Regions from separate parts of the Homo sapiens genome. Here region 2 is linked to region 1. Evidence: fine-mapped expression QTL. Tissue or cell type: whole blood. Region 1 holds a variant in brackets; the other region holds the start of a gene. All regions are shown on one strand. Distances are from middle to middle.

The links. PIP is the estimated chance that this variant, and not a neighbour inherited with it, causes the effect.
Region 2: it holds the start of CNOT7, and the variant in region 1 is fine-mapped to the expression of CNOT7 in whole blood (INTERVAL, PIP 0.98).

The regions. Positions count from the first base shown.
Region 1 is chr8:17,278,840-17,283,839 of GRCh38, forward strand. It overlaps VPS37A (VPS37A subunit of ESCRT-I), which reads left to right. Exons shown (of 12, transcript NM_152415.3): 7 at 1,189-1,316; 8 at 1,400-1,458; 9 at 1,536-1,604. Among named protein-coding and RNA genes, the nearest start is that of VPS37A, 34 kb to the left of the region's middle. The variant A/G (reference allele first, on the strand shown) is at 2,321.
Region 2 is chr8:17,243,394-17,249,583 of GRCh38, forward strand. It overlaps CNOT7 (CCR4-NOT transcription complex subunit 7), which reads right to left and starts at 3,464. Exons shown (of 7, transcript NM_013354.7): 1 at 3,282-3,464; 2 at 1,643-1,854. The coding sequence starts at 1,759. VPS37A (VPS37A subunit of ESCRT-I) reads left to right here and starts at 3,565. Exons shown (of 12, transcript NM_152415.3): 1 at 3,565-3,976. The coding sequence starts at 3,852. RefSeq lists an enhancer at 3,213-4,061.

The DNA.
Region 1 (5,000 bases):
TTTTCCCTGAATTTTAAAGACTGCTTTTTCTTTTCTTCTTTATTTTTAAATTATCCAACGTTTTTATATGGCTCCATAGTCAAAACTAAGATACGTTCAGAAAAGTTTTGCTTCCATCCATATCTGCTCCACCTAGTTCTTTCACCCTACAGATACCCATTTTTGTTTTTGGTTTAGCCCTCCATTATTTCTTTTCTTTAAATATTTTATGAATATCTGTACACACATATACATAAACACACATAAACATATCTATAACTCTTACTGTGACAGCCACACATCTGTAAGCTAAATAGTCACAGAGGTTAAAACGGAGTTGTTGTGACTGCTTATGTGCCGTGTCTTACTGGTCCTACAGTAACTGACATTATACACTAGCAGAGACTGTTTATCTTGTAGAGTCTTGGGAGATTTTACTGGCTACATTTTGGCCAACACATCCTTGGAATCATGCACTGACCTGGTCTAAAGCTGACTAGAGGAAAAAGCCAAAATGTTACAGTAACTACTCTGGCCTCTTTTCAGCTCTGTTTCCCTCTTATCAATACATACAATGAAATGACTAGGAAGAAATTCTTCTCATGCTACCTTGTCTGTGAACTTGTACTTGTCTGAATTTACTATAGTACTAGTGTGTTCAACATTATGCTTGGAAGAAATAAATAGCTTAAATTTTACATATCAGTAAGTCTGGTTCCTATCAGGGAAATTTAAGAAATAAGTGATATTCTCAAGCAATTAAGTTAAACAGAATTAAGAACAAGAAAAAAATACTTAACTATATTACTGCTGTCCTATTTTAAGAAACCTAAGCTGAATAAGCTCCTTAGTTTCATACATTGTTCTTTACCTGAGTTAAGTTGACTTTATTTTTAATTTCAGGTCACTGTATAACTGTGAACACTTCCCCACGGTTGTGATTTTTAAAGAAAGTAGATATATCGATATATCCATTGGACCAAAATTTACTTTTACAGATTCTGTCAAGAATATATTACAGACTGCTCTATGTTCCATTGTGGTTGATGTTTTATTTGATTTTAAGGTTAAAACTGGCAGCCTTAGGTGTATATGTAAAAATTATTTAGAACCCTATCAGTTAACTAAAGCTGAAAAATTGTAAATAGTTGTCATGGAGAAAAACTCGATGTCTGATATTTATTGACATTTTTTCTTTTGTGTTTCTAGTGTGTCACAACTCACAGATATGAATGAACAAGAGGAGGTATTACTAGAACAGTTTCTGACTTTGCCTCAACTAAAACAAATTATTACCGACAAAGATGACTTAGTAAAAAGTATTGAGGAACTAGCAAGTATGTTTTCCCTCTCCTGAGCGCACATTTCCTGAAAAAAATCTCATCTTTACCTAGAAGTAAACTAGAGATTTATCTTACAGGAAAAAATCTCCTTTTGGAGCCCAGCTTGGAAGCCAAAAGACAAACTGTTTTAGATAAGGTGAGTTAGTGATAATTTTGAAGAAATTTACATAATTTAAAAATAGAATAAAACAACCTTTTCATTTTCTCTTTTAGTATGAATTACTTACACAGATGAAGTCCACTTTCGAAAAGAAGATGCAAAGGCAGCATGAACTTAGTGAGGTAAGACTGTTTATTTTTTTCCCTTTGCCATAGATTTTTTTTTTAATCTTATGTGCATGAGTCCTGATCTCACTTTCATTATCATCAGAAACCATTTATGAGGTATCTGACCTTATAAGACATGATACCTTTAAACGTGGATGAACAGCTCTCAGTGATGAGGCATCATACATTATTTGTGCTCATATAAGAGCGTATTTGTTTCTAAAACAGAAAATTATGACAGGCCCTGACACATAACTTTTCTGGGTAAGTTATGAAACCATTGTAACACTTGTAGTGAAACCTAGCAATAACAACAAAAACTTTCGACTCACTTGTAAGCTTATCTACAAATACCTTAAATGAAAAGTTCGCAAATTAAAAAGAATAATATATGAAAAATATATAGTATTATCTGCTACAAATAAGTTTTATGCTAGAAATCCAGTTATGTGAAAATCAAAAGAATTTTATAAAATTCAACCTATATTTCTGAAAAAAAAGGAATCTTTGAAAAGGAACCAGAGGACATAATCTTTGTATCATACCAATAACAACCTCATAGTTAATATTCTGTTTCCTGTAAAATTAGGAACTTTGGGTAAAGTCAATGAAATAAAACATAAAATAGACATAAACCAACAACAGCAAAAAAGATGGTAAAGGAGAATATAAATTTATAATGAATTTCAGATAATACGGTCATTTGTCAGAATAAAGAAATAATAGCTAAC[A/G]TTGAGCAATTAATATGTCTTGCACCGCATGAAGCTATTTACGTATATTGGGCCATTATTACACCAAATCCTATGAAATAGGTATTGTTACTTTTTCCCATTTTACATTTTACAGATAGGGAAACTGAGGCACAGGGAGATTAAATAAATTTCTTGAGGTCATACAAGTAGAAACATTAGTTAGGAGTGTAACCTAAGCAGTCCTCCTTCACAGAAAATCTGTGAGACTCAACTGAAGTACTGTTAGATATATACTGGACCTTAGTAAATGTTGAAGAAGCTTTCATAGTACTCAACATCATTCTTTATACAAACTCTTAGTAAACTAAAAATAGAAATTTCTTATTTGAAAAAGAATACTAGAAACCAGCAGTAAACCTCACAATTACTACACATTTCTAGGATCCCATTAATGTTAGGAATAAGAGAGTAATGCCTCATGATCACTGCTGTTTAACGTTGTTTGGGAGGTTTTGAGTACTGCAAGACCAAAAAAAAGTGGTATAACATAAAAAGAAGAAATGAAACAGTTGTTTACCAAAAATAAACAATCAAAAATTCTAGAGAACTGAGAAATTTTTTCCTGTTTGCTCCAGCAATTACTACTGCAAAATGAAGTACAGAAAACAACTCATTTACCATAGGAACAAAATTGTAAAGTACTTAGAAGTAAACCCAATGAAGTAAGTTAGGAAACTTTATTGAATGCCATAAAAGAAGAGCTGAGTTTTGTATTTTCTAAGACTATTTAGAGCAGCATAGAATATTCATTGAATGAAAGATCCATTATTAAAAAGATTTCATTCTCCCCAAAATAACTTAGAAATTGAATACAGTTCTTATCAAAATGCCAAGAATATTTTTTTTATCTTAACAGTTTATTCTAAAGTTCATCTGAAACTTTATTTTTCAGATGGGTAGTCAGGAAGAGCTTGAACAAAAAGAAAAAATGAAAAAAACTCCCTTTCCCAGTATCAGAATACACTGTAAATCCTCATTATTTAAAACAGTATAGTAGTTTTATAGGAAGAGAAAATTATTTCTATGGAACAGACTATGTAGTTCAAAAATAGACTTGTGTATGTGAATAATCAGTTGGAAAAAATTGAGGATTCAATAAATTATAAAATTGGTTATTTAGTATCCATTTAGAAAAAGGTTAGATCATTGTATCATACAATACACAGAAAGTTTATTACAGATAAACTGCTTCAGCGGAAACCATAAAACGTCAACTAGCTTCTAGGATTTTTTCTTTAAGATTATGGTGGGAAAAGCCTTTCTTAGCATAATAAAACAGATATGAGCATAAAGGAAAAACTCGACATATTTACCTCTACAGATTGAAAACTCAGATATATTAAAAAATCATGAAATCAAAATTGAAGTTAAAAAAAGGGTACAGATATTTTTAGCCTATACAACAAATACTAATGCCAGTGGTCTATTGGAAAAGGAAACAACAGGAAACTGACAAAAGGAGAAATATAAATGTCCAATAAAGATTCTGCTTTAACAGTTATTCTGATCCTTAAACATTCATATAAGAATTGCTGGAAGTGACTCTTCAAACACTTAAAAAAAAGACACACACACACACACACACAAAACAATGATTCCTAGGCTTCTTTCTAGATGTTCTCAGTCAAAATTTTCTGGGGATGATGAATCTTCTGCGCTCTTACATATGGAAACCACTTCATTAGACCATTGGTTCCGTGATGGAGGAATCTGTTCTGTTTCATTTCTACTGTACACCTAATATCTGGTTCAGTGGTTGGCACATAATAGGTACTCAATAAATATTTAATGAATAAATAACTGGAAACTTTGGAAAATATGTTCAACTTTACTGTAATTTTTTAAAAAGCCAAATAAAACATCCATGTGAGCCATATTTGTGAAGATAGATAACCAGTTTTGGCAAGGGCAATGAGAAAATGGTGCATTACAGTTCATTTTTATTTATGAGTCACAAAGAGATACTACCCCACATGCATTAGCATGGCCATTATTTTTTTTTTCTTACTCTGTCACCCAGGCTGGAGTGCAGTGCTGCAGTTACAGCTCACTGCAGCCTTGACCTCCCAGGCTCAAGCGATCCTCCCAATTCATCCTCCCAAGTAGCCAAGGCTACAGGTGCATGCCACCACACCTGGCTAATTTTTGTATTTTTTGTAGAGACGGGGTCTCGCTATGTTGCCCAGCCTGGTCATGAACTCCCAGGCTCAAGCCATCTGCTTGCCTCAGGCTCCCACAGTGCTGGGATTACAGGCATGAGCCACCACGTCAAGCAGGATAGCTATTATTAAAAAATCATTTTAGTGCCTAGATTTAGGTCTTTGATCCATTTGGAATCAATTTTGTATTTAAGTAAGGTAAGGGTCCAACTTTTTTCCTTTGCCTGTCGATAATCCAGTTTTTTCCAGCACCATTTGTTGAAAAGATTCCTTTCCCCATTAACTGGACTGGGCTCCCTGGTTGAAAATCATTTGGCCATATGTGTGAGGGTTTATTTCTGGGCTGTCTATTCTGTTCCATTGTTCTTTATGTTTTTATGCCAGTACCACAGTTTTGATTACTGTAACTTTGTTAGTAACTTGACATGAGGAAATATTAATCATCTTTAAGATTGTTTTGGCTATTTGGGGTCTCTTGAGATTCCGTATGAATTTTAGGA
Region 2 (6,190 bases), 35 kb before region 1:
AAAAGTTACTATACGAGATACATGTGATAAATTTAACCAAATACTTACTCTATAACCAAGAAAGGGGGGAAAATCATAAATTCCTGTCTCCCAAAGGATACATGAAATGATGCTCACAGTATTCCAATGCTAAAACCAAGTTTCTTGAAGAACTGGTTCAAAAGAGGGGAAAACGCCCTGTACTTTCCAATTGCTTCTCTGACACAAGGTTTTTCTCAACACCAAAACCCTAAGAAAAACATCATTAGCTTCCTAATTTCTCTGGCTTAAACAATATTCTCTCTATAGTCCACAGAAAGCATGCTGTCAAGAATTGCATGCCACCTACTCACTCTTGTAGGATGTTATCACTTCTCTATGTTGCCACTCTTTATCATCTGAGAAATCAATGATCACTATGAATTTCCATTGGTTAAGAAAACAATTTTAGTTCTAATCATGGGTAAGTACACCTTTATCAAATAGTATGTCATCTACAAAGAAACAGTCATATTTTAACCAATCAACTTGCTCCTCCCCAAAGTAATGCATTTGTTTATTTTTATTAAAAATACTGAGACAAAGATACATCGGTTTAGTATTAGAATTCAAACTAGGGCTAGCTAAGAATAAAAACTACCTATCAAGTCACTATGAAATAGTAAAGAAATCAATATTTCTCTAAATTCAGTGCAATTCAACAGCCACTTTATTGAATACTATATGTGTTATGCTAGGTGTTGGGAGAGAAAGGATTAAAACACTTGGTTTATGGAGCTAATAATAATCCAGTGGATGTAGAAAACAGTAGGGTAGCTAACAGATATAGACAGTATAATGGTAAAGAAGAAAAATCATTAACTGGATAGACAATCTAGGCAGACCAAACAGCACGTGCAAAAGCAGAGTTGCTTAGTAACACAGTATATTCACAGAACTCCAGTGTTAATTATGAAAACAAATTGCAGACCAACAACGTTTCACTGGCACATCTGATTTTTTTGTTTGAGAAAGAGCACCCTAGCTTCTGGGAGCTCATGTGGTACTACCAGCTAGGCTTTGGTGTTGCTAGGAGCAGACCTGGCACTCATAGCCACGCCCTAATGTTCTCCTGTTGAACACAATTTCACAAAAGTTCAACCTCAAATAAGGCCACTCTGTAATCATGTCTGAACAAGGACAAAAAAATAAAAATGTCAAACCACAAAATGACCAAGTATCTCCATCCTGGCTAAATGAATGACTGTTCCTTCTCTGCAGCTTTAACCTCATTCTAGTCTCTCATTTAAGACTTAGTAAGATACCCAATCACAGAATTACCCCAGCTTCCCGAACACATCCAATCCACAGTAAAGCTCTGCTTCCCTTACCTTCCCCTAAGACCACCTGACACGAGCCCAAATCCTTCCTAACTCTTATTCAAACGGCCCATGGTTCCCATGAATTCCAGTGCGTTTTCCCTCACTGCAATGAGGGATAAACCCAACCTGTCAAATCACAGGTGTATTCCTGATGGATTTTGGCTGGAGGGCAGTGACAAATTTTACTTTTCATGGTGAAATTAATCCCTAAAAATATCAACCAAAAGGGTTGAATTCAAGACTTTAAAATTTCCTTTTCCTCCTTTATATGAAGCGTTTTAAAGATCTGCTTGTGGGCATACCATAGCAACGTAATTATATTTTCGGATAACTTGACGAATTTTCTTCATCTCTTCATCCAAGTTGCAAGCCCAAACTTCACAAATTCTTTGGCTATGATCTACAGTTGCCGCTGGCATAGTGAGGGCACAAGGGAGTCTAGATGCCAAGCATCAAAATGTTATACTTGATTGAAGATTTGTTTCATAAAATATTTTATCCTTTATTTATGTACCTGTCAAAATAAAAAAACAATATGAAGACCAGATATATCAAATCTGAATCACAGAATAATTGATCCAGCAGGAACCTAAGAAGTTATTTATTCAAAGTTCTTGACTCATAAAAAAAAAAAATCAAAGTTTAGAAAGTAACTTAAGGTCACACAGCTAGTCTATAGGAAAAAAAGGACTACAGTACAGATTTCCTGGTCCTAATTTCAGTTATTTTAAAATAGCTTTTTTACACATACATACTAATCATATTTTATAACTTTCCACTAATTATTTATCTGAGTTCAACTACTCTGCATAAAACTTTATAAAGCCATCCATTTCCAGACAAAAAATGAAAAATTACTTATTTACATGTGACAAGATCAGATGTTACCATGGCAAAGATGGTGTTTATTTTTATTCCTCATTAATAAAACAACCAAAATCCGACTTGATAACAAGATCTACTTTACCGGCGTTTATTCTAACTAGACTAGAGGGGTCAAAAATGTTTGTAAATGCTCTGAGAAAAAAGTAACGGCCATGAAAATTATCTGAATGTTCGCAGTTGCAGAACGGAAAAAGAACACAATAGAACGTCTAAAACTTAGAGCATATTGCATGGTTACCAAAGATAGATGTCACATTTCTGGTCTATAAACAGAGTTCCTGTTGATTCTTGGGCAGGGAAATTTCAAATCCTTCTGCATTTTTCATACAAATTGGAAAAAAAAAAAACAAGAGTAAAAAGAGGGTCTTATGACTGTCTTCTAAACTCTGAAGAGTCACAAATGTAACTTCCAATTCTCCAAGTAGAGAAACTAAAGGAGATCCAGGACACCCCTCCTTTATAACTCTCCCACCCCGATAGGCACACACACACACATAAGCACAAAAACACAAAGACTTGGAAAGACCCTGTAGTCTAACATTGTTTTCCTCCACCTCTCTCTCTACTGCAGTCCCAGAAGCCCCGAAGAGACACCAAAGGCCTTCTCATTACTGGAGAAAGCATCTCCGTACTGCAGTTTCCCAGAGAAACGAGAGGACGGCACCGAGGTATTCAAGCCATAGATAACTCTCTTCCCTGGCAAAGCGCCAGTGCGAAGGTGCTGATAACACTGACTGGAGCTACACTGACTCCCAAGCACTGCCGCGTGAAACAATACGAAGAGGTGAGGATCTAGGCCACCGCCCTCCACTCCCAATTTCCGTCCCACTGCGAAGCCCCAGGTACAAAGCCTTTGCGTCATCACTACGCGCCAACCCCTTGACAAACCCCCAGCCCCAGTTACCCAGCCCCCAACCCGCCGCCAGGCTCCTTCCTCCGCCAGCCGCACTCCAGCTGGCGCCATCGCGCACCCTCTCAGGTTCATCGTCCCCGCCCCCTTTCTACTTCCCTAACCCGCCCCTCCCCCCGTAAGGCTGCAGCGGATGCAAGATCTACTTGTGTCGCTGAGCTCGCGCTCCTCCTCCTCCTCCTCGCCATAGAGACAGCACTCGGCGGCGGTGGCGGTGGCGGTGGCGGTAGCGGCGGCGGCAGCGGGTGCCCCATAGACACCTCTCGCCCAGCGAAGGGAAAGGCGAGCAGGAGCTGCGCCGCACCGTGCTGCGCCGTCGCTTTTCGCACGTCCTGACGGGGGCGCTAGATGATGACGCGACACGCAGAGGGGGCGGAGAGCGCCCCCGGGGGCGGGGCACGCAAGTGACGGCGGCGCGGGTGGTGGAGCGCTGGGCGGCCAGGCTCCCTGGCTGGCCGGTTTGGGCGTCTGGGCCGTGAAGGTGGGACCTCCTGTTCCGGGCCGCAAGTTTCCCTCTCCAGCCGCCCGCCGTTCGTAGCATGTCCCCCAGAACTCGGGGAGCGCAGGCAGGACAGGCTTAGAGAAGACGCGGTCCCCAGCGCTTGGGCCACGGACGTCCCACCCCGCTCCTCTGTCGCTGGAGAACCGCCGGGCCGAGCCACTGGGAGAAGCAGGCCAGAGCCTTCCAGGGCCTCCGGCCCGTGGACCCGAGGAGGATGAGCTGGCTTTTTCCCCTGACCAAGAGCGCCTCCTCCTCCGCGGCTGGGTCCCCCGGTGGCCTCACCAGCCTCCAGCAGCAGAAGCAGCGCCTGATCGAGTCCCTCCGGAACTCACACTCCAGGTGACTGGTCGCTGCCTCTCCACCGGAGGAAAAAGTAGGGTGGGAGGGCGGGCTTGTCCTAACCACCCTCACAGCGCCTCAGTCTGCTCCCCACCAGCTCCTCATGTGGTTTACCTCCCTTGGTTGTGGGTCACACGCTTGCTCTGCCACTCCTGCCCCCTTTTACTGTTTTCCTCCGGACCCTCCCTGCCTCCTGCCGCACCACTGCTCAGCGCTTCTAACTCGGATTTCCTCATCCCTCCTGACACATAGCTGCTGACTGTAATCTCTCAATCTCTCTCATAGTCTATTTCCAGTATCCCTTGCTGCCCAGGCTTCGCCACTGATCTTTCCCTTTGCCCACCTGATTGCCGCGTCAGCAGAATTGTTAAAATACAATTGTGAAGAGTAATCTCCAGGTTTCACAAAGAATGGAAAATAGAACTGTTGCAACATCAAAGGAAAGGGAAGCCAGAGTTTTCATCAGTGAATGCTTCTCGTCTGAGAGTCACTTATCACGTAGTCAGTCTTCTTGAGTCTCTAAGATTTACCCTGTTGGAGCAGTCTCTCCCCATCTCACAGCGACCAGTGCATGTACATTTCTCACTTCTTTCATAGTCTTGTCCCCACGCTCAAGAATTACTTTATGTTCATCTTGATTGTTCTGTTGTCTTCCTGTGAGTTTTTCATTTTATCATGGTCAGTTTAGAAATATTTTTACAATTCATATTATTTCAACTTTTACTGTAAATTGGTTTGCTGCAGCCTTTTACATTGCAAATGTCTATGGTCTCTAATGGTTTTCAAAAATTAGAACTGCTTCTTTATATTTTATGCATTTTGCAAGTATATTTACTTAACAGTTTCACACTATTTTAAATAAAGATGACAACATTGTTAAGTCCCTAACCCCTTTTTTTTTTTTTTTTTTTGCCGGGGGTACGGCTCTCCTGTTGCCCAGGCTGGAGCGCAGTGGCGCGATCTCGGTTCACTGCAACCTCCGTCTCCCGGATTCAAGCAATCATCCTCCCTCAGCTCCCCACACCCCTCCGAGTAGCTGGGATTACAGGTGCGCGCCACCATGCGCGGCTAATATTTTGTATTTTTAGTAGAGACGGGGTTTCACCACATTGGTCAGGCTGGTCTCGAACTCCTGACCTTAGATTATCCACCCGCTTCGGCCTCCCAAAGTGCTGGGATTACAGGAATAAGCCACCTCGCCGGGCTCCTAGCCCTTTTAAAAATATTATTTTCATACAGTTAAAAAATATGTATCCTCAGATAATATCGAATAATTCTTATTTAAAATGGAATAATTTTTAATTAAATAGTCTAGTTAATAGAAAAATTTACTGCAAAATCAGTTTGGCTAAAATAAGGCCTGATGCTGACTGAACTTTAGGTGTTTCTTGGTTCGTTGTCTCAATTGTTCTGTTTGTTCAGAACTTTCAAAAGGTGAAATTTTATGCTGTTTAACAGAAAAGAATGGCAGGCTGTTATTGGTGGCTTTCATTCTGGAAAATTAAGTTCGCAAAGTTCTTACAAGTCACTCTTACTCCAAATCATGTTCTGTACTGACCTTTAAGAGCTACTCTCACAAGGTATGCTTATAAAATAAGGGGACTCGTTTTTAACATGTTTGTTCCCTTAGAAGTTGTTACCTTGGTAGACTATATACCAAACCAGTCCTGCTATTGCAGAAACACTTTTTTAGAACCACACTTTTGGAATTAATTGCTTTTAAACCTTAGTATGTAGTATTATGTTAAATATTTTCAATGCTGACTAATTTTTTTCTTCGAGGTTGGAGTTTAATTTTTTAAATACTACAAAGTCTCTTGCTGCTAAGGCTGGTAAGTAAGGGAAGTAATTGATGTGAAATTTATAATTTTGGCCTCCCAAATAAAGTGAGATTCTATAGCAGCAATTGTTAATGTAAAGAGTTCTGGAATTGGCTTAAGAGGATCAGTAAATACGCGGAGTTGGATACAGAAAGGATTCATTTTATGTATTATTTTTTGAACCAGAAATTATGAACGTATGATTGGACATGATTACATTAGATAATGTAATTTATTTTGTAGTGTTATGAACAAATAACTAAGTATTTTATTGTTTTAAGTTCTTTTATAAAAACACTTGAAGTTTTATTGAGATGTTTCGCATTTACAAATTATACTCGAATAATTCCGGAGACACTTAAGTAGGTCATATGCTTCCAGTTTTCAAAGAATG